4 linked regions of the Homo sapiens genome follow. The protein of the gene in region 4 purifies or fractionates together with the protein of the main gene of each other region. This does not show direct contact. Each region holds a gene or a part of one and is shown on either strand. Other genes may lie near its edges.

The links.
Region 1: the proteins of RPAP2 (region 4) and URI1 purify together in Homo sapiens (affinity purification with mass spectrometry; 4 studies listed by BioGRID and IntAct, with this or other methods). This does not show direct contact.
Region 2: the proteins of RPAP2 (region 4) and POLR2M purify together in Homo sapiens (affinity purification with mass spectrometry; 5 studies listed by BioGRID and IntAct, with this or other methods). This does not show direct contact.
Region 3: the proteins of RPAP2 (region 4) and UXT purify together in Homo sapiens (affinity purification with mass spectrometry; 5 studies listed by BioGRID and IntAct, with this or other methods). This does not show direct contact.

Annotation. Positions count from the first base shown.
Region 1 is NC_000019.10:29,938,153-29,945,354, reverse strand, and holds the start of URI1 (unconventional prefoldin RPB5 interactor 1), read right to left. Parts: upstream 3,117-7,202; 5' UTR 2,808-3,116; coding exon 2,691-2,807; intron 1-2,690. UniProt on the Homo sapiens protein: Involved in gene transcription regulation. Acts as a transcriptional repressor in concert with the corepressor UXT to regulate androgen receptor (AR) transcription.
Region 2 is NC_000015.10:57,701,661-57,709,908, reverse strand, and holds the start of POLR2M (protein GRINL1A), read right to left. Parts: upstream 3,196-8,248; 5' UTR 3,067-3,195; coding exon 2,954-3,066; intron 1,196-2,953; coding exon 551-1,195; intron 1-550. Other genes in the region: GCOM1 (GRINL1A combined protein), read right to left, coding at 551-1,195.
Region 3 is NC_000023.11:47,656,097-47,663,651, forward strand, and holds the start of UXT (protein UXT), read right to left. Parts: upstream 3,085-7,555; 5' UTR 3,019-3,084; exon of another isoform or gene 2,868-3,018; coding exon of another isoform or gene 2,832-2,867; coding exon 2,734-2,831; intron 1,768-2,733; coding exon 1,686-1,767; intron 1,544-1,685; coding exon 1,476-1,543; intron 1,195-1,475; coding exon 1,087-1,194; intron 1-1,086. UniProt on the Homo sapiens protein: Involved in gene transcription regulation. Acts in concert with the corepressor URI1 to regulate androgen receptor AR-mediated transcription. Together with URI1, associates with chromatin to the NKX3-1 promoter region.
Region 4 is NC_000001.11:92,329,845-92,337,127, reverse strand, and holds part of RPAP2 (putative RNA polymerase II subunit B1 CTD phosphatase RPAP2), read right to left. Parts: intron 3,738-7,283; coding exon 3,655-3,737; intron 782-3,654; coding exon 701-781; intron 1-700.

The sequences.
Region 1 (7,202 bases), on a different chromosome or scaffold from region 4:
CTCCTTAGCTGAATTTGGAAAAAAAGAAAGAGCAAAACTAATGAGCAACATTTAAGCCACATTACCTACCAGCCCCTCTCAATCAAGGCTCCCAGAGAAGATTATGCCCTAAGCCTAAGGCACCCACTGTGTGTAAGGAACTCATTTCTCTCTCTGCATCTACAGCCAACTAGGTAGGTACCCTCTCAGGGAAAACTGAGAACAGTCATTCAAATCATTTTCTGCAGAGTTTAACTCTGTCTCACAAAACCCATGTAGGGAAAGGCCAAGAGCTTAAAAGCATGTTTGATTCATCTTTCATAAAGGAATACTAAGTGCCACATATGAAGCTACTATGACATTTTCCCCTTCTACACTCAGGATGTCACTACGCTTCTACTTTACTAGAACTCACTGTACTCCCACAACTGGGCCAGCTTTAAAGCCTAAATAAATTGCTTCACAAAAAATTTTCACTGCCGATTTACTGGGTAGTTTTCCTGTACTACACTATAATTACAGTGCAGCTATCTAATCAGTTTATTTTGTGGCCTTGTGGGTCTCCTGTCCACTGAAGCAAATGCTTCTATTAAATAAAGATAGATTAAATACTGACGCGCTTTTTCCTGAACTGGGGATAATTTTACACACCCATGACAGATATACGTGGTTATTTTGTGTGCCGAATTAACATTAACACAACACAGAAAAATAATTTGGTAGCACAGTCAATGTCTACAGAAAACAGTCATTCAGTTTGCCACAAGACTGTAACTGAAAAAGCAGTTACTCTCTCTTCCAATGTAACTCAACACGATACCAGAAAGCTGTTCAGAGCACCCCAAAAAGTATCCTTTGCATTTCAGTCACACTAACATCAGAATAAAACTAAGGATATCTTTTTAATATGCCAAATGGCAGAAAACATATCAAGTCAGCATTATGCACGTATTATACACTGAAGGAGGTGAAATTAACCCACTGCAGCAGAGGAAAGGCAATAGAAACACCATCCTCTGAGGGTCTGTGTCACATTCTCTGAAAGAATAAAAAATGCCAAGTTTTGGCAAAAGGAGTAAGATTTCATGAGGGGCTGTTTTTTCTTTCTTCTTTTTCTATCTTTCTCTTTTAAAAAAATACATTAATGTCTTCTAATTTAAAGACGCCAAACTAGTTAAGTTTTATATATATATATATATATATATATATATATATATATATATATATATATATATGAATGACAGGGTCTCACTCTGTCGCCCAGGGTGAAGTGCAGTTGCATGACCATGGCCCACTGCAGCCTCAAACGCCTGAGCTCAAGTGATCCTCTCACCTCAGCCTCCCAAGTACGTGGGACTACAAGCGTGCACCACCATGGCCCGGCTAATTTTTTGTATTTTTTTGTATAGACGGAGGTCTCCCTGTGTTGCCCAGGCTGATCTCGAACTCCTTGGCTTCAAGCAATTCCACGACCTTGACATCCCAAGCAGCTGGGATTACAGGTTTGAGTCACCACCCTAGCCACTGGATTTTTAAACCTTCATCTTGAAAACATGGCTTCCAAACCTAACAGTTGCGTTATTAGAGAAAAATGGCTGAGAAATGAAAATCCAACCCACAAAATAATTTAAACCAACCAGAACAAAGAAAGATTCCCGCAGTTCATCCCAACAGGTGGTTTCCAAGCAAACGAGGGTTTTTTAAGTTCTATCAAAACCCCCATCTAGTAGAACTGAGTATATTTTTGTATCTATGTAAACAGTCGTTCTTATACAGGAATGTTCAATTAAAAAGTTAAGAACTTTTAAACTGCTTATAGTGTTGAAGCAACTTCCTAACCCTTTATAATCCATGCTCTTCCAAACATGACATAAAATATTTTAAGCAAATTAAATACTGCTTTTCAAAGTAACAATTTCAAGACACTTGAGGGGACAGAATCAATCTGAAAGACCACAGAATCCACAGAAAAATCAGATTTAACAATAAAACTATTTCTTAAATTGGGAATACTTCTTTATATAAAGTCCCACTAGGAAACACAAAACTTTGTACCCTTTTCACCAGTAGTTTAAAACTCATTTATTATACGATGAAATTAAAATTTGTAAAAATGAGCCGGGTGCGGTGACTCAGGCCTATAATCCCAACACTTTGGGAGGCGAGGTGGGGAAGGGTAGGAGGGGGAGGATCGCTTGAGGCCAGAAGTTCGAGATTAGCCTGGGCAACATAGTGAGACTCTCTTTTTTTTTTAATGTTTAAATGGCATTATATTGTGACAAATATTAAATAACCAAATATTGCACAGGAAGCATTATCATGACAAACGCGGTAAAACTTTTCCGTGCAATCAAAGAGCAACAAACAGTACACATTTTAAGCAATGTTTAGGTCATTACAAGCTACAAATATTAAGGCGAACGCTTCCGTTGACAGCGTGCTGCCCCCGCCCCCAAATTCCCACGCGCTGCCGCACGCCTTCAGCTCAGAAGCCCCCTTTCCTGGGCAGGCGAACGGGCTGCACACCCCTCACTCCGCTGCGAAGTCAAAGGGCTGCAGACAAAGACAACAGAAGCACGTGACAAAAGTTTATCCCCGTTCCCTCCGGGGGCCCGGGCAGCTGGGCCTAGGCCACGCGGGGCGGCGGCCCAGAGCACAGGCAGGGGCAGCCCGGCGGGCGGAGGCGGAAGCGGCGCGGGGCTGCTAGTTACCTTTTCCTGCTCCTCGCGCAGCCGCGCCACATCCGGGGCGCGCAACGGAACCAGGGCAGGGGCCGGGGCCGAAGGGGGCGAGGGGTCGGGGGGCGTCTCCACGGTGGGCGCCTCCATGACGGGCCCGCGGGCCTCAGCGCGGCGTGTGAGTCCTGAACCAGCGCCTGCGCAGGCGGCGCGGCCGGCAGTTGCCCAGCGCCCGCGCGCCCGCCCTCAGGCACCGCGCGCCCCGCGCCCAGGAGGCCGCGCCCGCCGCCGCCGCTGCTGTTCGCGTCCGCGCCGCCCGCTGCCGCATCTCACACGTGCATGTCCCCGCCGCCGCCGCCCCGCAGCGGGCTCCGAGTAGCAGGCCGCCTGCCAGGTACCGAGACGCCTCTCCGGTGCGGGCCCAGCCAGGCGTCGCGTGGCGGCCGCGCCTCCCCACACGCCCCGCCTCTCGCGGCACGCCGGAAGCAAGCGCGCAGGCCCCGCCCCCGACACGCCCAGCTCGCGCAGGCCCCGCCCCCAGGGGAGTGCGCTTGATGCGAACCGCGTGGCTGGGGCTGGCGGTGTCCGCGCTGGGCTGCGTTTGTATCCCTCTGGAAGCTTACATTTTATGCCGATATTTCTTTCTTTTTTTTTTTTTGAGATTACGTATATGAAAGCACTAAATATAGGCTTTGGAACCTTAAAAAAAAAAAGCTTACATTCTATAGAAGCTCCACGCCCAGGAAACGCTCGGCAACAAGAGCCGCGTGTCGCCTTGAGTGCCCCATCTCCCTCCCCGTCGTTTGGCGCTGCATCTGTATCTAGGAGCTTAATTCATGTACTAGAGCTGTTTCATAAGCACATTTAATTTTAGCAAATTCAACTCTTTCTGTGCCTTTTTAGTGAGTTGAAATATACAATTATATTTTGCATGTTCATTAATTACTGTACACATTGTATTTTCTCTTATATAAATTAAGCTACTGTACTAATTTTAATATGCTGCTATGAATGGACTAAGAAATTTTCCAAGGATAACTTTGCCCCCACTTTTCTTTTTTTTTTTTTTTTTTTTAAGAGACTGAGTCTTGGTCTGTCGCCCGGGCTGGAGTGCAGTAGTGCCATCATTTCTCACTGCAGCCTCAAACTCCTAGACTCAAGCGATCTTCCCACCTCAGCCTCAGGAGTAGCTGGGACCACTGGCCCGCACCAACACATCCTGTTAATTTTTCTATTTTTTGTAGAGGCGGGGTCTCCCTATGTTGCCCAGGCTGGTCTTGACATTAAGCGAGCCTCCTGTCTTAGCTAACCTCCTGTCTTGGATTCCCTGAAGTGCTAGGATTACAGGTGTGAGCTACCACACCTGGCCGTTCCAATTATTTTAGAACTCCTGTGCCCACTTCCTCCTACAGCCCTTTGTACAGCCTCCTATTAACCTAACTGCGTGAAAGTGGCCTTGCCTTATCTGCTGCAGTCGCTAGCAGTAAAGATGGGTCGTGTTCGTTCCACATCATACAGACAAGTCTAGGCAGAGAGATGCCTGCAGAGTCACAGCCTGGTGTGCCTGCTTGCTCTGCTTCTCTTCCCTCACTCCTGCCCAGCTCCCAAGTCCAGATCCACCCTTTTTTTCCTTTTTATGGCTTCAAAGGAAGAAAGCAAGGACAACTTGGGAAAAGATAAATGTTCATTCCTGTCTTTTCCTCACTGCATATCCAACCATCATCACCTCTGGAACAGCCAGGACCTGACCATTGTTACCATCTCTTCTACCACCACCATCCTCTCTCCATCCCCAGCCACCTCAGCAACCATTGATCTGGCCTTGCTGCCCCTACTCTTGTCCCTTGTAATGGAGATCGGCTGCTGCCCACCCCACTTCCCCTCGTTTAGGGGCTTAACCCGCGACCACATAGTCCTGTGCCTGTAGGAAGCTGACCCACCCCCTAGCTCCAGGCAAAGGGGGTGATGCATCTCCCTTCTAAATAGTTGGTTCAAGAATGGGTGTGCGATGTCGTCCAAACAGAGACTTCCTGGAGGCTTCTGGGAAGGTTCTTTTTTTTTTCCTCTGTTGCCCAGGCTGGAGTGCAATGGTGCCATCTTGGCTCACTGCACCCTCTGCCTCTTGGGTTCAAGCGATTCTCCTGCCTCAGCCTCCTGAGTAGCTGGGACTACAGGCGCGTGCCACCACACCTGGCTAATTTTTGTATTTTTAGTAGAAACAGGGTTTCACCATGTTGGCCAGGCTGGTCTCAAACTCCTGGCCTCAAGTGATCCACCCGCCTTGGCCTCCTAAAGTGCTGGGATTACAGGCAAGAGCCACCACGCCTCTCCTGAGAAGGTTCTTCCTCATTCTTCAAAAGTGCTCCCATAAGGAATCAGTCTATCCCCTTGGCCAGGAAGTGCAAAGCAGGTAGCCCCATGTGTATCAGACAGCCCCCCAGACCACCTAGACACTCCAGTACTCAGAATGAAGTGCGATCTGTGGTCAGCAGAGCTGAGAACAGAACCCAATCCTTGACAGCATCACAGAACTTGATCCAGGGCTGAATCAACCAGCTCTGGAGTCTGCATCACTTCTGAACTTCCCGTTTAAAAGGCCAGTAAATTTTCTAAATGACCAGGACAATTTTCTATCATGAGCAGCCAAAGACATCCAATTCGCACACCTCTAAACTATTATCCACTCAGCAGTCTGGGTGAGCTTTTCAAAGGGGATCAGGTCATGTCAGTCTCCCTTCTAGGGCCCTCCATGGCTTCCCACAGCAACCAGAATCAAATCCAGACATCCTACTAGAATTCAGCATTGTCGGACCCACCTTCCCCACCTCCAACCAAGCCCCCTACCACTCAAGCCAACCACAACAATTTCTCTCTTCTTCAGATACTCCAGACTAGTTCCTGCCTCAGGGCCTTTGCACCTGCTGATCTCTCTGCCTGCAATATTTCTCCCATATCTTTCCATGGTTGCCTCCTTGCCATTACTCAGGCCTCAGTTCAAATAATAACAGGGCTTTCTTGATCTCCTGTCCACAAAAGCCCCTCCCCTCTCCTCTAGGCATCTGCCCTCACCTCACTTTTTAAATTTTCTTTGTAGCACTTATCACACTTTCAAATGATCAGCTTTGGCCGGGCGCAGTGGCTCATGCCTGTAATCCCAGCACTTTGGGAGGTGGAGGCAGGCGGATCATTTGAGGTCAGGAGTTTGAGACCAGCCTGGCCAACATGATGAAACCCCATCTCTACTAAAAATACAAAAATTAGCCGCCGTGGTGGCACACACCTGTAATCCCAGCTACTCGGGAGGCTGAGGTAGGAGAATCGCTTGAACCTGGGAGGCAGAGGTTGCAGTGAGCAGAGATCATGCCACTGCACTCCTGCCTGGGCAACAGAATGACACTTCGTCTAAAAAAAAAAAAAAATTGGCAAGGCGCAGTGGCTCACGCCTGTAATCCCAGCACTTTGGGAGGCCAAGGCAGGCAAATCACCTCAGGTCGGGAGTTCAAGACCAGCCTGACCAACATGGATAAACCCCACCTCTACTAAAAATACAAAATTAGCCAGGTGTGGTGGTGCATGCCTGTAATCCCAGCTACTGGGGAGGCTGAGGCAGGAGAATCACTTGAACCCTGGAAGTGGAGGTTGCAGTGAGCCGAGATCATGCCATTGCACCCCAGCCTGGGCAACAAGAGTGAAACTCCTCTCAGAAAAAAAAAAAAATGGTAGGCCAGGCACAGTGGCTCATGTCTGTAATCCCAGCACTTTGGGAGGCTGAGGTGGGCAGATCCTGAGGTCAGGAGATCGAGATCATCCTGGCTAACATGGTGAAACCCCATCTCTACTAAAAACACAAAAAATTAGCCAGGTGTGGTGGCAGTCACCTGTAGTCCCAGCTACTCAGGAGGCTGAGGCAGGAGAATGGCATGAACCCGGGAGGCAGAGCTTGCAGTGAGCCGAGATGGTGCCACTGCACTCCAGCCTGGGTGACAGAGTGAGACTCTGTCTCAAAAAAAAAAAGTAAATATTATTTTATTACCTTATTACTTTATTACTTATTATTGGTTAATCCCTTCTTCATGTGCCAGGCCCCCCACTGGGAATGGGAGACAAGAGTTGACCAAGGCAAGCACCAGCCCTGTTCATAGATGTTGGAGTCAATAGAGGGCCACTAACATGGTTTGGATATTGTTCCCTCAAAATCTCATGTTGAAACGTGATCCCTAATGTTGGAAGTGGGGCCTAGTGGGAGGTGTTTGGGTCTTGGGGGCGGATCCCTCATGAATGGTTTGCTGCTCTTCTGCAGTAATGAGTTCACATGAAAGCTGGTTGTTTAAAAGAGCCTGGCACCTCCTCCTTCCTCTCTTGCTCCCTAGCTCTTACTTCCACTTGCCATGTGACGTGCAGCTCCCCATTTGCCTTCCACCATGATTGGAAGCTTCCTGAGGCCTCACCAGAAACCGAGCAGGTGTTGGTGCCACATGCTTGTATGGCCCACAGAACTGCGAGCCAAATAAACCTCCTTTCTTTACAAATTACCCAGCCTTGGCT
Region 2 (8,248 bases), on a different chromosome or scaffold from region 4:
AGCCCATCAGCTCCTGCAATTGCTTTACCCTTAGTTCACAGACTAATCAAAGAGAGTACACTTTGATAGTACACTAATCAAAGCTGTACACTAAAAAATGGTTCTGAAAAAAAGAAGTCATAATAAATTCTCTCCAACTCTGTGTTTATTATGAAATACTGGCTAAGCATCCTAAAATTTAACACTCCCCCATGTGCTTTAAAAGACCTTGTCGATTATTTGGTTTCAAAACTAAATATTTTTCAACATGAATCTTCTACTCCGGCCAGGCTGGTCTCAGTGTTGCCACAACATGTTATTTCCTAACTACAAGTAGTTCTCATACAAAGCCCACGGAACTTAGAGCATTCTCCTGACTTATTTAAGAGAAAAGGTCTTATTATATTGCCCAAGCTGGTCTACAACTCCTGGACTCAAAGCTGTCTTCCCACCTCAGCCTCCTGAGTAGCCTGGGACTACAGGCAAGCACCACCACACCCAGTTTCTCGTAAATTTTTGAGTTTAACAAATATCACGTTCCTGTTACAGGCCTGTTTCCGAGGGTACTTACACATTGGTTTTAAATTTACGCAGCTGGGGCACTGGGTTTTTGGCTCGCATTTCTAGCACTTCCATGTAATGAGGTTTCTTCTCAGTCCCACTGGAAAGGCCTGTCAAGTTCTTAGTACTTGCGTTTTCTTCTGACTGTTGTTCACCTTGGTCCGCAATGGTGATCCTCTGTAACCTGTCAATAAACAGGTTGTCAAAGCTGCTGGAAGTATCTTCCGCTTGACTTGAAACACGATGCCGCGGGTGATGCTCACTAGCTTCAGATGAAGGTGGTACCCTGTCTCTATTGCTGGAAGCTGGGCCCTTATTCACTGTGTACTCAACCTCTGAAGTCTCTTCATCACCTTCAAGAGTAGGACGTCCAAGTCCCTGGTTTTGTGAGGTTTGAGATGACTTGATGTTATCTACAGAGGAACATCCAGGAACTAGTGATGAAGTATCAAGTATCGGGTCAGAATTCTGGGCCTTATCTGTACCCACATCAACTTCTGCAATTGCTTTTTGCCTTAGCTTACAGTCTAAACTAACAGGGTTAAACAGTTCACTTTTTCTTCTAACTTCTTCACATTCTGCAATGGCAGCTTTCAGTTTGGCAAAAGAGTCAAAGATCTTTTTACCTTTGTCGGGCAATTTGCAAATGAATTTTCTGTCAAATGGAAAAGAATACTATTACATTACAGCCATTTTTTTAACTTGAGATATAACATTAAAAAGGCAAGGCATTATCTTCAAAGAAAGAAAAGCTGATTTTTAAGTCAAATATCTGATTTCTAACTGCCCCAAAACAAGAATAAAACAATTAAAATGGTCATTATCCAAATAGCCCAAAAAACAAGGGAATGCAGGAAGAATAGGGAATATATGCCTCATTTGTCTCAGCAAATTAGAATTTCAGCAAAAGTATTTTAAGCATATAATAATCACATAAGACATTCCAAGAACCAGCAGTCATTAAAGTGCAATCTCCAAAATTTGGGGATGGGGTGGAGTGTGGGGATGGGCCTATTAGGTCAAAACTACTTTCATAATAATACTAAGATATTATTTCCCTCTCATTTTCTCGCATGGGTACAGTGGAGTTTTCCAGAGGCTACATGGCATGTGATGACATCATTGTTCTAGAATAGAATGTGTGCTTGTGTATGCTTATGTTTTAAAGACTTCAGACGTATTTCTGATAAGTAAATACATTTCGCTAGATACAACACATAAAATAGCTCTTTGGGATGTCAATAATTCTTAAAGTATAACGGAGTCCTGAGACCAAAAAGTTAATTCACTGCTATACATTCAAAACCTATTCTCACAAGGTCAAAACACATGTCTTGATCCCAACCAATTATTTATTTGTCCCTTTTGCTGGATGACAGAGTTCCTTTTCTGATTCCCTTTTCTTTAACTATACAATAAATGGAAAGAAAAAATTACACCTTAAGTCCTCTGTTCTTTTTGACACTACATTCATCCCCACAATTTCAACTATTAACAACACTCTACAGCTGAAATTCCTGTTTTCTGTATTTTTCCAGGGTTCTCTCTTTCTTGAGCCTCATGACTACTTCTCCAGCTTTTAAGTGTTTGGTTTTCGATTAACCAAATGTCTGTCCTGCTCTCCTCTCAACTCTGCACACCCTAAGTAAAATCAACCTTGGATCTATTCCTCTCCCTGAATTTTCCTATTTTTGCTAGTGGTCTTCCATATAGATTGGAAACTTCAGCCATCTCTGTCAACTGCATTTAAATTAGTCCATGCTTAAAAGTTCTCCCAATCCCTTCCTAGCTCACTTTCTTACAAGTGTCTCGTGGGAAGTCTCTCTGAAAATATCCTTCTACTGTCTTCTGCTTTTTATTCCTTCAAACCATCTTTTGCAACAAGCTGCTGAACAAAGCTGCCTAAAAAACAAAATCACTTTTATTACGTGGCTCCCTTGCTAAAATCCGTTCAACCAGCCAGCTGAATGAGGGTCGAACTTTCCCGGCCTAATAAACCCCTCTTCATATCCCACTCTTCCCATTTCCTACGGTTCCTGTAAGCTTAGAATCCAGAGATGAAGCTGACAATCTGTTATGGGTTAGGGGTGCGGGCGACAAAAGGGTTTAGAAAGCAGACTCATGGAACCACCACAGTCCCCGGGTAAATAAAACCGACCAGGGGCTACTAACTCCCTGCAACGCCAGGTAGCCGTTCAATCCGAGCTATCCTCGCAGGCATACGTGCCTGGCCAGGAAGAGGCACGGCTCTGCCGCAGCAAGCCCTCCGTCCACTCGCCCGTAGGACTGAAGCGAATGTGACTGAGTCAAAGTCACCTTCCAGGGAAGGGAACAGAGTGCGGGAGGGGAGGGGAGCGCCCAGGGAGCTCGAGCTGAAGGAGCCTGGCGGAGACTCCGCGGGACCCCAGCTTACTCGTTGCGCAAAAGTCTCTCCTGGCGCTTCAACATTTCCCGCAGCTCCACCAAACTCCGCTGCGCCAAGTCCTCGGGAGCTTGGGGCTCGAAGCCGCGGGGCAGCGAGCACATTCTGCGCGGGCTGAGGCTGGCGCGGCGGCGGGCACTCGGCTTCCTCGGCAGGCCCCGCTACTAGCGCCGGATCCGCGGACGGCGGTGACTCCGGGGCACGAGCGGGAGTCGCCATTTTCCCGGAAGAACGGGGTCTTCTTCGAGCCGAATCGAGCTTTATTGAAATTCCGGAAACAAACACGGACTGGGAGAAGGGGGCGTCCGCAGGAGCGTTAAAGGGCGGAAGTTACGTCGGATGACGCCGGCTCCTTGGCTTGGCGCCCTTTCCCCTTGTGTGAGCATTCATGCGGTCATCAGCTGTTCGTCGGTTTATACAAAAAGTATTCAGCGCCAGCGTGACCTCACCAAGCACTATGTGTCAGTCAACAAATAGCAACGTCCTGTGTTATACTTGGGGTTTACAGAGTTGGCGGGGGGATGGGGGGAGGGAGAATCAAATTATGATATAATAGTAACGTTGGGATGGGCACCTGGGAAGATATCTCTGAGAAGTGGTTCAAGTCGAAACTTGAAAGATGAGCTGGCCATTAATAAGGTGGGAGAGAGTGCGGGACAGGATTTGGGAGACTCTGGCCTGTGCGTGGTGCCTCCGGCCTGTGCGTGGTGCCTCCTAGCTCAGCTTAGGGACGTCCTGAAATTGTTAAAGTTGGAAGGTTCCTCAGAATCAGCGATTTTTCTTGGGGCTCAATGCATTTGGAGAAGGACTTCATTTGTAGCACCGCCTCAAGCATTGTTAAGACATTTGGTGTTTCTGGCTTCTGCCTGCTAGGTGCTATGGCACTCCCAAGTCATTGCAACAATCCAAAATGTCTCCTCCAACATACATTTCCAAAGGCCCACAAGAGGTGATGAGGGAGTGGGAGCAGCTGTACAAACTCGTTGAGGACCTTTTCGAATTTTCTACTTTGCCTATAGAAAAACAGAGGCATGAAAACTGAAATAAATATTCCCAGGGCACAAAACCAGTAAGTGACAGCACCAGATTTCAAACTCAAAAGCCCAGCCCCTTTTCCAACACACCAATTTGAAAATCCCCTTCTTCACTTTAGGCCTATTTCCAAATGTGTAAAACTGTTGAAAAGACTTCCCTCCGCCCCCCCCCACCCCCGCCACCTCCCCAGCTGTTGAGAAGAAGGCAGCTTAATAGGTATTGGACACAGCTTTTACCTTCTCGTTATAGTTCAGCTACCAGAGGTGCATCCCAGTGGAAAGAGTAGGAAGACATGCAGTCACAGCAGATGTCACTTGGGAGGTTTGAACACCCCCATAACCCACCGCCCTCCCCCGATTTTTTGATATAGGAAATTGAAGTTGTCTCAATCCTGTGTAAGATGCTATATAAACACAAGCAGCTCTGTCCTAAAGAGACAGAAGATCTAGGTAAACTCCAAAGCTATTCCAGGGAGCACAATTGCAACCATTTATCTATCCCCCCAATCTGGTCCATTCTGATCAGATTCATTAATATATCAAAATAAGTTTTCTCTGTATAAGACTTGCTTTCAAGGACGTTAATAACGTGCTGCAGCATTGGCTGAATGAGAAATAGGTAAGGTCCTCGAGTCAGGTGGTTGTCTGTGGTACTGACAAAAAAAAAAAAAAAAGACTCCGTAAAATGTTGAAGAGATGTATTCTGTGCCAAATATGAGTGACCATGGCCCGTGACACAGCCCTCAGGAGATCCTGAGAACACGTGCCTAAGGTGGTTGGTGCACAGCTTGGTTTTATACATTTTAGGGAGACATGAGACATCAATCAAATACATTTAAGATAAACATTGGCTTAATCCACAAAGGTGGGACAACTCAAAGCAGAGCGGGTGTGGGGCAAGATGGGCTCCCAAGTTATAGGTAAATTTAAGTTTTTTTCTGATTGGTAATTGATTTAAAGGAATGTCTAGGTTAGCATAAGAACTTGTGGAGACCGAAATTTTATCATGCAGATGAAGCCTCCAGTTAGCAGGCTTCAGAGAAAGTAAGTTGTGTTTCTTATCAGACTCAAGGTATATGTGTTGATATTAAATGCTGTGTAGCTTTTCCTGGATTCTAAAAGAAAGAAGGGCATAATGAGGCATGTCTGACCTCAGCTTCCCATCATGGCCTAAGCCAGTCTTTTAGGTTAAATTTGGAGGACCCTGGACTACAGGAGGAAGTCCATTCAGACGGTTGAGGGCGGACCTTCAAATTTTATTTTTGGTTTACAGTGATAAGCACCCCGCAAGCCTCCCTCACCCCACCCCTGGACCCCAGCTGGAGGCCTTTATTTCTCCCACAGTAGTGAACTCCCCATGTGCTGATTGTAGGCCACAGGTGTCCCCAAGGCAAGGATGCCTTTCTTTTAGGCCTCAGAATTTTGCCCCCTTCTGTTACCCTTTTGTGGAAGGCTATCTCTTCTCCCCTTGCCAATTGTAAGTCTTGGCTGAAGTCTCACCTCCTCCCTGAACCTTCCCATGTTATTCCAAACCAAACTTCTCTTTCTTTTCAGCACAATTATAGGGCTTAGTTAAAGTTGGAACCTCACTGCATGAAGCATATTATACTTCTCTAATTGTGTTATGCATCGAGATTTCTTTTTCCTTTCCTAACAAAATTGTAAAGTCCTTTCTGTGAGGGAGCTATAATTGTACTTTTTCTGTCTCCTCTCAGGAACATAGCATGTAGTAATTGACACAATCTCCTTCTCTCATATTTTTTTCTCTACCTTTCCCCCATATTCCTCTTTCTCTTAATGAAATGTTTCTTATATGCAAATCTTAAGCTTTTTATATAATTAATCATCATTACTGTGTAGATTTTTCAGTGGTTTGGGATAGAATCTTTTATACAGTATGGCTTAGGGCTTCAAGATATCATAATACAGATCTAAATTCCCACCAGCATCCAAGCACAAACTGTCTAATTTTGTCAGTAACCAGGAAGCATGGCAAGTGGAAAACATCACTCTACAACAGAAGCAGACTACTTGCAGCCTATTTACACTTCAAAAGGAAAATAGGCAAAGTATTCTTTTATAATTTATGAAACAAAAAATAAATATCTAGGACACAAATTTTCACAGCAGTGTCTAGAGAAGAAGATATAAAATGGAGAAATTTAACAATGGAGAAATGAAGACTAAAGAGAGAAACAATGAGTGCTACAGGTTATACCTGTTTGCAGCTGAACCAAACACTTGAAAGGAAATGGAGCCCACAAACCACAGACAGCTAATCTCTGCTAAAGAATTCCAGTTGCCTGTCAAAGAGCCCATCCGTTATAAAAATGAATCTGGGCAAGTGTTTTGGGGTTTTTTTGTTTGTGTTTTTCAGTGCTCATTAAAAAGATGAATCACTTTTCCAGTGGTACTTGGATTAATCTCCTGAATGTTGCTCTCAGAGTAAACTAATAAATTTGGCTGCGTTTGAAAGGAAGGAAAATTCAAAACAGAATTAAGGGAAAGGAAAATTTCATTAGTCACGTGAGGTGCTGCCAAGATGACCTATAGACATCCCACTGCCACGAAGCTACACAAGGACACTGAACAAAAACAAGACCTGGGAATGATTTCCACTTGTCCTTACCTAGTTGAAGATAAAAACTGACAATCAATTGTAAAACTGATAAACATAAATGTTTAGAATTTCCAGGCTGTTCTCCTCTGTTTTCTTGCTTTGATTGTCATTGTTGGGGCATGAATGGCCACAAAACTGGCCATGATATAGTTGGAGTTGACCAGAATGGCAGCAACAATATTTCCCATCCTAAATGTGTTCTTCTTGCTATGTGAGTTTAACACTCCTCCTGTCAAGAAATGGGGTTATTCTTCTCTATCCTTGAATCTGGGCGTGCTTATAACTAGAGCAAAAGTGATTTTTCTAGTCTAGATGACAAAAGGTGATGCAACTTCTACCTAGCTTTCTTGAAGTGCTTACTCTTGGAACTCAGCAAGCAAGCCATGAAGAAGTCTGCATTTGCGTAGATGTTTTGGCTATCATCCCAAGCTGAAGTTTCAGCCAACAGGTAGCATCAACCACCAGACATGTGAGTGAGCAAAACTTTGGATAATTTCAGCCCCAACTGTCCAGTCACTTCCAGCCTTCACGACATCCAAATTGAAGCCTCAGACATTGTGGAGCAGAGACATCTTCACTATGCCTTTTCTAAATTTGGGGTCGTTTATTAAACAGCAGTAGTCACAGGAACTTTATCCAAGGTTAATCCCTTCAGCTATACTATGGATCCCATCTGTTCTTGCTTCTTTGGAGATCTCATTCATTTGTTCAGTAAGTAAATATTTATTGAGCGTCTATCACAAGTGAAACGCTATTCTAGGATTTGGTGATATAACGATGAATGAGGTAAAGAAATTTCCTGTTACATTGAAACTTTTATTCTATCAGTACTAAGAGTCACATAGAGAATTAGTACAGAGTGATTTGATAAGGAGTGACTGGTAGACTACTTTGATTGGGTGACTGAGGTTGGGTTTTCTGAGGAGGTAACTTTTAAGCTGGGACTTCAAATGACAAATGATCAACTGTGGGAAAATCTGATGGAAAAACATCCCAAGTAGAGGCAAGAGAAGATACTAAGGCCGTAAAAGGAGAAGGAGCTTAGCATGTTCAAATAACAAAAAAAAGCAATGTGGAAGGCTGGGGCTAGATCTAGCAGGGCTTTGTAGACCAGGATATGGAGTTTGGATTTTACCCTAAAAGAAATGGGAAGCCACACGTGGTAGACAGCCTCTAGGATGGCCCCCAGTGTCCCACTCCAATGTAATCCTCTCCCATGGAATGTTGACTGGACTTAACTGACTCACTTCTAATAAATATGGTAGAAGTGATGGGCACCACTTTCCAGATTAGGGAATAAAAGATTTGAAAAGACAGTTTACCAAAGAAGATATATAAGTGAAAAATAAGCACATGAAAGAAGACCAGTGTTATTAGCCATTAGGAAAATGCAAATTAAAAATACATGGAGAAGCTGGGCATGGTGGCTCATGCCTGTAATCTCATCTACTCAGGAGGCTGAGGTGGAAGGATTGCTTCAGCCCAGAAGTTCAAGACCAGCCTGGGCACCATAGCAAGACTCTATATCCAAGAAAAAATAAATAATAAAATCACAATGAGATATTAGTACATGCCTACCAGAAAGACTGACCATTCCAAGTGTTGTAAAGGATGTAGAGCAACTGGAACTTT
Region 3 (7,555 bases), on a different chromosome or scaffold from region 4:
TCCCCATCACCCCCAACACAGATCTGCTTCAATAACCACTTTAATATGCTTCCAGCATACCCTTTCAAATTATTTCAACAAACACAAAGCCGGGTACAGCAGTGCGCCTGTAGTCCCAGTTACTTGGCAGGCTGAAGCAAGGGGATTGCTTGAGCCCAGGAGTTTGAGGATGTAGTATGCTATGATCGCAGCTGTAAACAGTCACTGCATTCCAGCCTGGGCAACACAGCGAGACACCATCTCTTAAAAACAAAAACACAGAGTGTCTACTATATGCTTGTACTACTCTAGTCACCTGGGTATAAGGGAATAAACCAAATCTCCCCCTTTGTAAAACTTACATTCTAATTGGAGGAGACAACATGAGAAAGAAATTACATAGTAAATATTAGGGGGTGATAAGTGTTAGTAGAAAAAAAGTAGAAGGAGGGGAATCAAGCATGCCAGGGGCTGTAATTTGAAAGTTAGGTTACAGAGGGCCTTGTTGAGGAAGTGACATTTAAGCAAGACGAGTGAGTGAGGAGAAAGGAAGCCATGTGGGTACTGGGGGAAAGAGCAGTGCAGGCAGAGAGAACAGCTACAGCAATATCCCTGGGGTGGGATCATTCTTGGGGTGTTGAAAGAAGCATGTGAAGGTGAGTGTGGCAGGAACACAGTGAATGAATAGTAAAATTAGCAGGAAGTGAAATCATAGGTAACTAGTTTTCTTGTTACCAATTCTAACAGGCTGAGACCTCATGGATCTGGTCATAATTGTATTTATGTATAACAGTATAGTCCTTCTAGATTGTAAGCCTTCAAGGAACTCTTCTGTCTTGTTCACTGCTGCATTCCCACTGCTAAGCACAGTGCCTGGCATACAGAAGATGCCCAATAAATGTTTGCGTGAATGAACAATACAAAGATCATTTTTTGAGTGCTTATTATGTGCTACACATGGGCTTTGCAACCCCATTTCTTCAGCCCCAGCTCTGAAGAGGAGGGGAGATGAGTCCTTAAGTATCATTCCAGGCAGCCATGGGTAAAGGGAGAAGAGTGTTGGAAATGGTGGTGTTTTTACACACTATCCTCATGGAATGGACTTACTCTGTGAGGAGAGAGCTCTTACGATCAATGAACTTGAGAGCTTCTGCCAGTGTCAACTCCAGGAAAAAACCATATCCCAGGGCCACATAGATGCGTGAAGTATCTGGGCTGAGGAAAGAGAGGTTAGAGGAAGTGGGGAGAAGTCCTTATCACTGTTTAGCATAGTTTATGTTTTGCTCCCCACCCTTCCCCAAATTGAGGCTCTGGGAAGGCAGGGATTTTGTCCTATTTTATTCACTGTCACATCCCCAGCACCTAGCTTATATCCTACTGGGATATAAAACCTCGCATAGTGCCTGGTACATAGAAGATACTCAAAAAAATATAAGTTGCATGAGGGAAGGGGTAAGCTGAACCCTGTGGGCTCAGAGGGGCGGGTAGACACTCACACCACTGTGTCAACGAAGAAGTTACAGCCCAAATCCACCTGCATATATAACTCCGAGTGCTTAGCTTCCTGTGGGGCCAGGGAAAAAGAGGTAGGGGTCAGTGGTGAACTCTTAGGTCAGGTGACAGGGTTGGGTCTGGAGTCTCTCTTCCCATTTCCCTCCCTTGCCCACACATACCAAAAAAATGGTACCCAATCCCATAGTCTTTACCTGGAGTCGCTCAATGACATTTCTCAGTTGAAGGTATTTGGCCAGCTGCTCATATACCTTGTCTCGATGGTCCAGCACCTTTCTGATGGGACGAAAGTACAATGGTGACCAATAGGCAGCCCCATTCCTCCTAGTATACCTCATATCATGACCCTCTGAGACTCTCATGTCACCATACACTGAAAAGGCTTTTTAGTGCATAAGTTAATTTTCGGCTCTGGGTCAGACTGCCTGGGTTTGGATCTGGGCTCTATCCTTTATAGATGTGTGACTTTGGCAAGTAAATAACCTGTTTGGGACTCAGTTTCCCCATTTATAAAATACAGATGACAGTATTACCTTGTAGAGTCATTAGGATTAAATGAGCGTTTACTACAAAGCATCTAGAATAATGCTTATCAAATGGTAAACTCTCTATATACATGTTAGTTATAATTACTATTATTATACTCCCAATACTGAACTCCAATCATAATGTCCCATCCTCACCCTAGAAAAATCCTCCATCCCTTTTAGGATGCTCATAGGCCTAGTTCTGAACACCTTATTTCCTGCTTAGATTAACAAAGATTGCAATAATATTTCTTCATACTCATTGAACCTCTACTATGTTTCAGGCATCCATGCTAAATTCTTGACAAAGATGGGACACATCAAAAACTCAAAACCACTGCATGGGGAAGGTTCCAGAAAACTCCCCATTTCACAGAAGAGTAAAGTTTATAGGGCACAGAAAGGCGAGGTAGGACGTATTCACAAGGATGAAGAATGGCCGAGCCAGGATTCGAACCCGAGAACTGTGGCTCCAGAAAACAAGCCTTAATCTGTTAAACATCGGAGGCCGCGCATGCGCTGACACGCCCCTGCTATGAACGCCACGTCCCAGCCAAACTGCACCCCGGATGTCGTCCCCACTTCTCGCTCCAAGGAGCGCGGGGCCGGACTCTGAACGCCTCGCCCGCCAATTCAAAGGGTTGGCCCTAACTTTGAACGCCCCACCCACCACGTGGAATGTTCCAAACGCCCCGCCCCCCGCACTGTCACTCACCGCAAGTCCCGCTGCAGCACGTCACTGATGAAGGTCTCGTAGCGCAGCACTTTCTCCCCCGTGGCCTCCACCGCCCGCCGCTTAGGGGGCGTCGCCATGATGGGCTCCTGGGGAGTGGGGAGGGGGAAGACCATGTTGACCGATCCAGTTTGGCCTCACACACAGTTCATCTCTACCCTCTCAACGCTGGGAATCGGCTTGTCCGGCTCAAGCTGGAGGTTCAGCCTTCCGCCCCTCCCAACTCGGGGACCCGACCACCCAGGGACACCCAAGCGCGGCCTTTACCTCAGGCCGCCAGCAATAAGAACGGTTGGTAGGAACCGCGGCTTCCGGGTGGCGCGGGTGAATGACGTAAGTGGCAAGCGCGCTGGCCAACCAAATAGCCAGTTGGGGAGGGGCGGGCCTGAGTGGAAGAAGACGGGCCAAAGGGGAGAAGAGAAGGGCAGGGCTTCACGGAATCCGAGGAGATCAAAGAAGACTAGGGCGTGCGAGCAGGGGCCGTCTGGCAATAAACCGGCCAATGGGGGACTGCAAAAGCGGCGCCTGGAGCCTATGGAGACCGTGTGTGGCTGGTGGGGGTGGGATTTAATGGGATTTGGCGGGTTCTAAGGTAGGCGCGACGCACAGGTGGAGGTAGAGGAAGTGAAGAGTTTAATATTTAAAAGGACCTAAAAATTGACTATGGTTCTGGTCTATAAGGAAGATCCCGTGTGATCTGTCGGCCTGGATATTGATTTTTCACACGGGAGGTTTGGATTTCACTCCTGGCAATGGGACTGAGTATAAGCATTTAAAAGGTTTTAAACAGAGACAGGTTTTCTAAAATTCATCTTTGATAACTCCAGCTCTGCACTCGCAACCCATAAGTGAGGCTCAAGTGGAAATTGACAACACTCTCTGTCTAATCACCTCGTTTGATAGTCAAATGGAGAGGGTGGCTGAAGTCCTCTGCCGAAGATTGGCCATCTTGTAGTTAGGCATAGTTCCCATGTTTTTATTTAAATGGTAAGGTTTTTGTGAATTTATTCTTATGCACTAGAGTGACTGAGTGAATTTATTTTTCAGGTTAGATTTTCAAACAAGAACTTATAACCCAGCAAGAATGGGCCTTTGCCTGGAGAAGAATCCAGACCATGGGATGAATCCCCAAATGCTATTTCCATCTGTAGAGCCTAGAGCACCCACCCCTACCAAGGAAGTCTTCCCAGATAATTTGTGTTTCATATGTAAAAGCAAGTTTTTTTTTTCAAATGCTCAAAACCCAAGCAAGTTAAGCCCTTCCTTCCTTCCTTCCTTCCTTTCTTTTCTCTCTCTCTCTCTTTCTTTCTCTCTCTCTCTCTTTCTTTCTTTTTTTTCTTTTTTAGACAGGGTCTGTGTCCCCTAGGCTGGAGTGCAGTGGTATGATCATGACTCATTGCAGCCTCAACCTCCCAGGCTCAAGTGATCCTCCCGCTTCAGCCTCTGGAGTACCTGGGACTACTGGCATACACCACCACGCCCATCTAATTTTTAAAAAAGTTTTTGTAGAGACAGAGTCTCACTATGTTGCCCAGGCTGGTCTCAAACTCCTAGGCTTAAGTGATTTGCCCACCTCGGCCTCCCAAAATGCCGAGATTATAGGCATGAGCCAGCACACCTGGCCAAGTTAAGCTTTTCTTTGCCCTTAGAACGAGATAATTGTAAAATGAAAACATTGAGATTAGTTTTTTTGGTCTGTAAATCTCATGTTACATATAGTTTAAATTACATTGAGTGTGATTGGAATAGATACTAGGTAGAAAAATATTATCTAGTTAATCTATACCACTTTCCTGTGAAAAGAGAGAAAAGAAGACACATATTTATTTAACAGAGAACACAATTCTGATGGGCTGGAGATGAGTCTGTGTAAGTCTATTAACTTATATTTCACAAAAAAGAATTTTTTACTTAAAAATGTATTTCCAACTTTATTTTTACATTTCAAACCTACAGAAAAGTTGACAGTGAACACTCATATACCCTGCACTTAAGTTCGCCAGTTGTTTTATTTTGAATTTTTAAAATTTTTTTAGAGGCAGGGTCTTGCTCTCTTGCCTAGGCTAGAATGCAGTGGTGTGATCTCGGTTCACTGCAACCTCTGCCACCGGGCTCAAGCAATCCTCCCGCCTAAGCCTCCTGCATAGCTGGGACTACAGGCATGAGCCACCATGCCCAGCTAATTTTTTGTAGAAATGGGGTTTCACCATGTTGCCCAGGCTGGTCTCGAATGCCTGAGCTCAATCAGTTCGCCTAACTCGGCCTCCCAGGGTGCTGGGATTACAGGCGTGAGCCACCATGCCCGGCCTGGATTCACTCGTTGTTAATATTTGATCACATTTGCTTTCTTTCCAGACCATAGGATAATTGTTGACATGGCTGCATAGCATTCCATTCTTTGGATGGCCTCAGATTTTTGAGCCACTCCTCTGTCACTGGATATTTGAATGTGTTCAGATATTTTCGTTGTTATAACCAGGATGGGATAAGTCTTTGCTGTCAAATTTTTGTGCGGAGCCATGATTATTTCCTTGTGATAAATTCCTAGAAGTAGAATTTATAGATTTTTTTTGAGACAGAGTCTCACTTTGTTGCCAAGGCTGGAGTGTAGTGGTGTGATCTCTGCTCATGGCAACCTCTGCCTCCTGGTTTCAAGTGATTCTTCTGCTTCAGCCTCTGGAGTAGCTAGGACTACGGGCACACACTACCATGCCGCCTAGCTAATTTTTGTATTTTTAATAGACACAGGGTTTCACCATGTTGGCCAGGCTGGTCTCGAACTTGTGGCCTCAAGTGATCTGCCCACCTCGGCCTCCCAGGGCGCTGGGATTACAGGCATGAGCCACCTCACCCGGCTGAATTTATGGATTTAAAGGAGGTCACTGCATTGTAAATCAAGTGTTGAGTGACAGTGGTACGCATAACAGTGAACCTCCTCATCTAAGCTCTATATCAGGGGTCAGCAAATTATGGCCCCTGGTTTGCTGACCCTTTACAGTTTCCTATAGCCTGCAAACTAGGAATACTATTTACATCTTTAAAGGGCTTTAGAAAAGTAAAACTAATATTTTGTGACACATCAAAATTATATGAAATTTGCATTTTAGTGTCCATTAATAAAATTTTCTTGGAACACAAGTCTCACTCATGCGTTTACATATTGTCTGTTACTGCTTTCACGCTATAATGGCAGAGTTGAGTAGTTGCCAAAGAGACCACATGGTATGGACATCCTAAAGTATTTACTATCTGGCCTTTTACAGAAAAGGTTTGCCAACCCCTGCTCTGTACAATGCCTGTCACCAATACAGAGGTTGGGGCTCTAACCAGGTGGGTCTCCCTGGCTTCCACTGGCGACCTCTTAACCTGGCTTATGGGTGCACATTTTCAGGCTGGTGCTTCTGGGAGATATGAGAGACACAGTCAGCTTGTTTCCAGCTCCAAGATGTGAGATGGACTGTGTCTCTTATGTCTGCATTTGAATCTTCTCTCCTTTCCATCCAACTTCCTGCCCCCAGCTCTGACTCATAGGTCTCTGTCTTTGCCTTTTCCCAAGAAGAGCAAGAAATGACTAAGGCCCAGGGGAGGCTGCATTTCCCTGATAGCTAATGATGTAGAACATCTTGCCATGTGCTTATTTGTCATCTACATGTCCTTTATGGTGAAATGTCTCTTCACATTCTTTGCTCATTTACCAAATGGATTGCTTAAAAAAAAAAAAAACTTGAGTTTTGAGAGTTCCTTACATATTCTAGGTATGAGTTCTTTGTCAGATATGTGGTTTGCAAATATTTCCTCCCAGGCTGTAGTTTGTCTTTTTGTCCTCTTAACAAGGTCTTTGTTAGAGCAAACACATTTAATTTTGAAGTCTAGTTTATTGATTTAAAAACATTTTTTGGATCATGCTTTTGTTGTTGTGTCTAAGAACTCTTCACAAGCCGTAGCTCCCAAAGACGTTCTCCTGTGTTTTATTTTTAAAGTTTTTTAATTTTATGTTTGACATTTAAATCTGTGATCTGTTTTTAAAAAACAGCTTTATTGAGATGTAATTCACATACAATAAAACCCACACATTTGAAGTTTACAGTTCAGCAGTTTTTAATATATTCACAGAGTTGTACAAACATCACCACAATCTAACTTTATTTTTTTAATAATTTTTTTTTTTTTGAGACAGGGTCTCACGCTGTCACCCAGGCTGGAGTGCAGTGGTAGGATCTTGGCTCACTACAGCCTCAACCTCTCAAACGCAAGCGATCCTCCCTGCCTCACCCCCTCAAGTAGCTGAGACTATAGGCATGTGCCACCACGCCGGCTAAGTTTTGTATTTTTTGTAGAGATGGGGTTCCACTGTGTTACCCAGGCAGGTCTTGAACTCCTGAGCTCATTCGATCCACCCACCTCGGCCTCCCGAAGTACTGGGATTACAGGCGTGAGGCACCACGCCCAGCAATCTAGAGTATTTTCATCACCCCAAATAGAACTCCTGTACCCACTCCTCAGTGTGTTCTCCCCACCCCAGCCCTAAGCAACCACAAATTTAATTTCATCTGTAAAAATTTTTGTATTCTGCACATTTCAATAAATAGAATCATATACACTATGTGGCCTTTTATGCCTGGCTTCTTTCACTTAGTATAATGTTTTTAAGTTTCATTTGTCCATGTTATAATACTTATTAGTACTTTATTCCTTTCTAGGGCTGAATAATAGTCCCTTGTGCATATATGCCACATTTTGTTTATTTCTCTTACCAATTTCAGTAAAATGTAAAGTCCTTACTCCTTTTAAGTCCCTTTTCCTC
Region 4 (7,283 bases):
AGGCAAATGTTAATTTTAATATTTGGTCACTGGCATTTGGCTGAAATGTGTATTTGGTACACCTCTACTAATAAGCCATTTAGAGGCTTATTGCTATGCTTCTTGGTAGAGAGAACCTAGTCTTAGCCTGAGTGAGTATTTTTATCTTGATAGTTTTAGGAAAAATCACAACAGTTTCACTCACAATTGATATCAATTCTCTATTCTCCCTTTCTTTATAGTTCTTAGCACTTTAAGTCTGTTCTGTGTAATTCAATATTAAATTGCCCACTGTCTTGTACTGTTTACTGTACTCACATGATCTTCACAGAGGAGAGTTCTTCCTTTAGGGTGGCACTATGTTTCTTTTACATTACCCATAGTGCCTGGTGCAGTGTGGGTCAGCCAATATATATTTACTATTTCACTTAAACCCATAGTATTACTGGCTTTGCATCATAGATATAATTTTCCTTCTCAATTTTAGGCTATTCCGTAAATAAACTATCCAAAGTGAAATATATAATGGCTTGAGCAAATAAAGGTTGCATTCAATAGAAGAGAGAAATAATGTTGTTTAGTGGAGGAGAAAATAGAATACTGTATTTAGATCTGTGACATTGAAAGGTAAGTCACTTACTTTCTCTGTGCCTTTGGATTCTGCAAGGCAATAAATAAAGTCAAAATAATTGAGAAGGATAATTGTAATATAAACACTAACCTGAAAGTTCGAACAAGATTTTTAAGTTGTGTGTAAATATCTCCCAATGTAATCTGAAGAGGAACCAGAAGCCCAGGCAACCTGAAAATTTAAAAATTACATTTATTTTAAAACAAAATTATATGGAAACTTTTTTTGGGTCATGCCTAGATCTGAATTTTCCATAGCTAATAATGGCATTTAGATGGAAGCAGTCATGATTTAAAGGTTAACCTAGGTTATGATTGGTGAGAACTCATAAGGAAACATTCATAGTAACCCCACACTCCACTTTGTAGTCTGTTACTGAGTGTGAAGCACTGAAACACAAAATCATTTTGGCAGCTATTTAAATTCTTGTCCCTAGTTTTACTTACCTGTTTATTTTCAAATATTAGACCAAGATGGAAAGAACACAACTGCCCCCAAAATGGTCCAATCTGAGAGTGTGGTATATTCTTCCTTACTAAATCCCCATGGTGGGAGTGAAAATTAGTACCTTTTTAGGAAGCAATTTGACAATATATATTAACAGTTTAAATGTGTTTGACCCAACAGTTTTACTATGAAAAAAATTTAATCTAAGGAAATAATCAGATGAACATAAAAAATATGCTTGTTGCAGAAATAGCTTTAGTAGTGAAAAATCAGAAACAAATGTGTATCAATAGGTGATTGGTTAGATAAATTATGCTATACCCATTTAATAGAATAAGACATTTAAAATAATGTGAATCTATTTTTTAATATAAAAAGATATTCATGATAGATGTGAAGTGAAAAATGTACATAGTATTATCCTATTTTTATAAAAACATGTATTATATAATACCATTGTACTTCATATATATCAAGCATATTTCATTCCTTCTAGGTTTATCCACAGAGAGAACCAAATAGAATGAATATACATATGCCATATATATGTCAGGGATATACATCAAAATATTAATAGTAGTTATTGTTGAGTGGTGGGATTACAGGTAATTTTTACTTCCTTCTTTAAACCATTTTGTACTGCCTCATTTTCTAAAGTATGTGTTACTTTATTTTTTTAAGCTTCTTTTTAAGACCAGTGTGATAGTATAAAAAGTTTCACACATGTTCCAAAATAGAAAGAATAGTAATAATCCCGTATATCTATTTCCAGATTCAATTTCTTAATTTTTGCTACCTTTGCTTCATTTTTCATTCCCTTCAGCACCCAGGCTGGAGTGCAGTGGCATAATCCAAATGTCAGGCAATAACAAATGCTGGTGAGAAATGTGGAGAAAAGGGAACCCTCATACAGTGTTGGTGGGAATGTAAATTAGTACACCCACTATGGAGAACAGTTTAATCACGAGCATAATCATAGCTCACTGCAGACTCAAACTCTCGTGCTCAAGCGATCCTCCACTTCAGCCTCCTGAGTAGTAGCCCCACAACACCCGATTAATTTTTATTTTTATTTATTTTTTTGAGATGGAGTCTCACTCTGTTGCTCAGGCTGGAGTGCAGTGGTGCGATCTTGGCTCACTGCAAGCTCCGCCTCCTGGGTTCGGGCCATTCTCCTGCCTCAGCCTCCTGAGTAACTGGGACTACAGGCATCCGCCACCACGCCCGGCTAATTTTTTTTGTATTTTTAGTAGAGATGGGGTTTCACCGTGTTAGCCAGGATGGTCTTGATCTCCTGACCTTGTGATCTGCCTGCCTCAGACTCCCAAAGTGCTGGGATTACAGGTGTGAGCCACTGCACTCGGCCGAATTTTTATTTTTATTTTTGTAGAGATGTGGTCTTACTATGCTGCCCAGGCTGGTCTTGAACTCCTGGCTTCAGGTGATCCCCTTGCCTCAGCCTCCCAAAGTTCTGGGATTACAGGCATGAGCCACCACACCTGGCACATTTTTTTCTTATTTTGTAGTAATATTTTAAAGTAAATCCCTGTCGTCATGTCATTTGACCCCTAACTGTTTCCATTTTTATCTCTAAATACAAAGGCACTTTCTTATATAATCACAATAAAATGATCATAACCATCCAAATTAACAATTCCTTAGTGTCATCTAATATACAACATATTTTATTTCCTCTGATACTCTGAAATAAACACTTTTTACAATTGGTTGGTTCAAATAAAAAACCAAAAAAGGTCTAACTTTGATAATGAGAAAAAAACCCAACAGCTTTCATAAACAAACAACAAAAAACTCCTATACCATAATTAGTTTTGTCTTCACTCTTCTTTATGCCTTGGTTAATGTGAAATGTTTTCTGTATTTTCAAACTGCTACAAAATAAAACTTCATATTCACAACCCTTAAATAATGACTGACACACTTTTCCATGTTTTCTGCTAAAATAAGAAAATGCAGGTTGAAAAGTTCAACACAGCCCTCATACCTCTGGGAAAAAAAAACCTTCAAGTTCTTTTTGAAAGAAAAACCAAGATAGCAATTTTTAAATGTCATTTATGACTGGGCTAATTACAAGAACAATAATTTCCACCACGGGAAGTTTAAAGCTAAAGTGCAACGTTGAGTTGAACAAAAACTCATGTTGCTGAGTGTGAAATGGTTCTAAGGATATGCATGCAGAGTGACTTAACAGACCCTTAAAACTTTGTAATAACATCTTATTTGCATCTGAAACTGCTGTGACACATTTACCGCAAATCAGTATTTAAATGGGTCTAGCTTTGATATTTTTTCCCTGACTTCACTGATTAGGTGGGAGTAAGGTAGTTTGGTCTTCTAAACCCACAATCTCAACCTTCCTCTTTATGATGTGCCTCTGTGTCCTCTACACAAAAATTTGTATTTCTTGGATAAAATATCTTAAAAATCCAAATTTCTTAAGTGAAGAAATCCATGTGAACTTTTCACATTATTTTTCAAAATGTTCAAAATCTGAGGATAATACTTACACATTATGAGCTTAAATGTCAAGTTAATTTAAAACTACTACAAAGCTGGAATGGCAATTACATACTTACACTTTACTCAACTTTTCAAGTACGATGCGTTTTCTAATCTGGTTCTGGGAACTTGAGTCTATCAGTGGAAAGGTGGAATCATGCTGAATCACATTTTTAAACAAAGCAAAACAGAATCATAAGTTTACATTCTTTCTTTGATAAGCAGAACAATAAACATTAAAACACAAAAGTTTGTATCTGTGGCACAGTAGGAAAATAACTAGACTTGAGAATTAGATTTAAATTTGAGTATCAACTCAGTTGTTAGGCTGTTGTGAACTTCTTTGAGTCATTTGCCCTCTTTGGAGAGTCAGTTTTCTCATCTTTATAATTGGGATATTAATACCTCCTTTATTAAATAATAAAATGTAAACAAAAAGATTTTGTAAACTGCTAAGTGCTGTACAAATGTAGGGGATTAAAATATTAAAATTAGCAAATACTATAAATATATTATGAGGAGTTCAGTCATTATGTCATTTGACCCCTAACCATTCTAGAAATGGCAGACAAGATAATTCAAACCGACTCTCTCTCTGAGAACTGAAAAAAGTTGGGGGAAAACAATCCACATTTGTTTGAAACACATTTGTTAGCATCAGAGAGCTAACGAGGCTATAAAGAATTACAGTCTGAGATCCTGGAGAAGGTAATTACAGATAGAGCACTAATTTTCTAATTAGATATTGAGAAATTGAGCAGTTTTTCTAATAAAAAGAGTTCAGGGTATCCTTCAAGAAGGCAGGGGTATGGGCAACCTTCCCCAAGTATGAGACCAGGACTTGGAAAGACCATACTCTAGGAATAACAGTAAGAATAGGAAATAGACTAGTTCTTTCAGGGAGTGAATCCCACCTTGAAATCATCTTAATCTCTGATTACATTACAGTGACATGGAACTGCTACAAATCATGTCAGAAGCAAATATAAATCTATTCTAGAGGAAGATAACATCATCCTGAGTCTCCAGTTATCTCTGTAATTTTTAATATACAATGTTTGGCATATAATAAAACACGACAATATGATAAAAATCTGAAACAGCCTACAGAGATCAATCCTCAGGGAATCTAAATAATGAAGTTATCAGCATTATTTAAAATACATGTTTAATATATTCAAAGAAAAATTATGAGGTTGAAAATTTTTGACAGATAATTGGAAACTACATAAAATAACAAAATGAAAACCCTAGAATAGAAAAATACGGTATTTAAAAGTAAGAACTAATGGGGAGACATAAAAGCATAGTAGAAATGGCTGAAGAGAGAATGCTGAATAAGAAAATATCCAGAATGAAGCACAGTCACCACTCCCCAAACACATAATGTAAAGCACAAAGGAGATTAAGAGACCTACAAGATACAGTAAAAAAAAAGACTAAAGAGAAGAGGCAGAATGGAATAGAAGCAATATCTAAGAGATAACTGGGAACATTCCAAAACTTACAAAAAAAAACCTTAAAAGAAGCTAGAGGAAGAAAACACAATACTTTCAAAGGAGTAGCAATAAGAGATACAAATGTAAGCCAAAAGACAAGGGAATGATATTTTCAATGGGCTGAAAGAAAATAACTGCTCATCTAAAATTCAATATAGAAAAATATCTTTCAAAAGTGAAAGTAAAATAATTTTCTGACAAAGAAAAACTGAGAAAATTCTTTATCAACTGATACTAAGAGAAGTATATTCTTCAGGCACAAGGCAAATGATCTCAGATGGAAGAATGGGGATAGAAGAAGGAATGAAAAACAATGAAAGAGTAATTAATTGAATAAATCCAGCTGAGTATTGGCTATAAATAATCTTGCAATATATTTGAAATTTAGAGAAAATAAAAATATCCAATAACAGAACATAAGTCAAGAGGGATAGATGGAGTTAAATCATGCTAAGGTGCTAATTGTCCAGGAAGCAATAAAAGTATTAACTTACATTAGACTTTAATAAGACAAAGATTCAGGTTTTAACACTTAGGGTAACCATTTAATGATCAGTAAAAGAGTATATAAAAACAATTTAACAGAGGCTAAAAAATGGAATAATGATTCAATGCAAAAGAAAGCAAGAGAGAAAAGGAAGACAGAATAAGTGGGACACATAGAAAGAGGAGTGAGATGGTAGATTTAAACCCAAATACTGTATACCAATTGTGACATGAAATGCAAATAGATTAAATTCTCCATATAAAGGACAAAGATTATCAATCTAGACAGATTGTCCTTGACCACATTAATACAAGAATGTTAATGTCAGCAAAGTAGACTGTAAAGAAAAAAAGCAAATAGAAAGGTTGCTCCATAGTGATATGAGTTTCAATTCACCAGGAAGACATAACAATTTTACATTTATACCCAATAACATGGTCTCAAAAAGTAAAATTTGCAGAAATAAAAGTAGAAATAATCAATCCACAATTAAGGTGAGAGATTTTTAACTCATCTTTCTCAGTGACTGATGGAATGAGCAGACCAAAACCCAAACCCAAACCACCACACCCCAACAGTGCTTCTCAAATGTTAATGTGCATGCTCATCTTCTGGGGATCTTGTTAAAAAGTAATTCTCATTCAGTAAATATGGGGTGGGGATAAGAGTCTGCATTTCTAACAGGCTTCTAGATGATGTTGACGCTGCTGGTTCCATGGACCACACATTGTATAGTAAGCACTGTATTAGTCTATCTTTGTGTGTTTCTGAAAATTTCCATAACAAAAAGTTTTTAAAAATTGACTACCCACAGGCCAGGCGTGGTGGTTCACACCTATAATCCCAGCACTTTGGGAGGCTGAGGCAGGCAGATCACTTGAGCTCACGAGTTCGAGACCAACCTGGCCTGGCCAACATGGTGAAACTGTGTTTCTACTAAAAATACAAAAGTTAGGCAGGCATGGCACGGGTGCCTGTAATCCCAGCTACTTGGGAGGCTGAGGCAGGAAAATCGCTCGAACCCAGGAGGTGGAGTTTGCAGTGAGCCAAGATGGCACCATTGCACTCCAGACTGGGCAACAGAGAAGATTCCATCTCAAAAAAAAAAAAAAAAAAAAAAAAAAATTGACAACCCACAAAGAAAATCAGAGGAAAAGATAGTTCAATGAGTGATCTTCTAAACATTTAAAGAACTAACATTAATTTTAGACACATTCTTCCAGAAATGGAGGGAACATTTCCCAACTTGTTTTACCAAATGATTACAACCAAAACCTGATAACGATATTACAAGAAAGGAAAATTATAGGCAGTGCAAGGTATCTTCATTCTGAACAATTTTCACCCTTTTCCACCTGTCTTTGTACTTCAGAAGGCTGATCTGTATGGGCTGCATCAATGGGCTTCCTTGCTCTCTGGCTTTTATCTCAGTTTTGCCAATGAAGAATAAGAAACTGGACGGTGCAGAAGAGTCATTCCCACTTGGTCCACTACAAGCAGCACTTCCTTGGTACAAGACCTTGTGGTCCACTCCTACCTTTTTCCTTGAGGTCTAGGGGTGGTGAGGGCTCTCAAACTATGATTAGTGTATCATTCCTTTGGTTTCCTTCATTCTGACCACATTTTCACGCTTTGGAAAACAGTCCTATAATTAAACTTTCCTCAGATTACTTAATTTGTACCATGTGATTTATGATGAGACCATGACCAATTCATACGC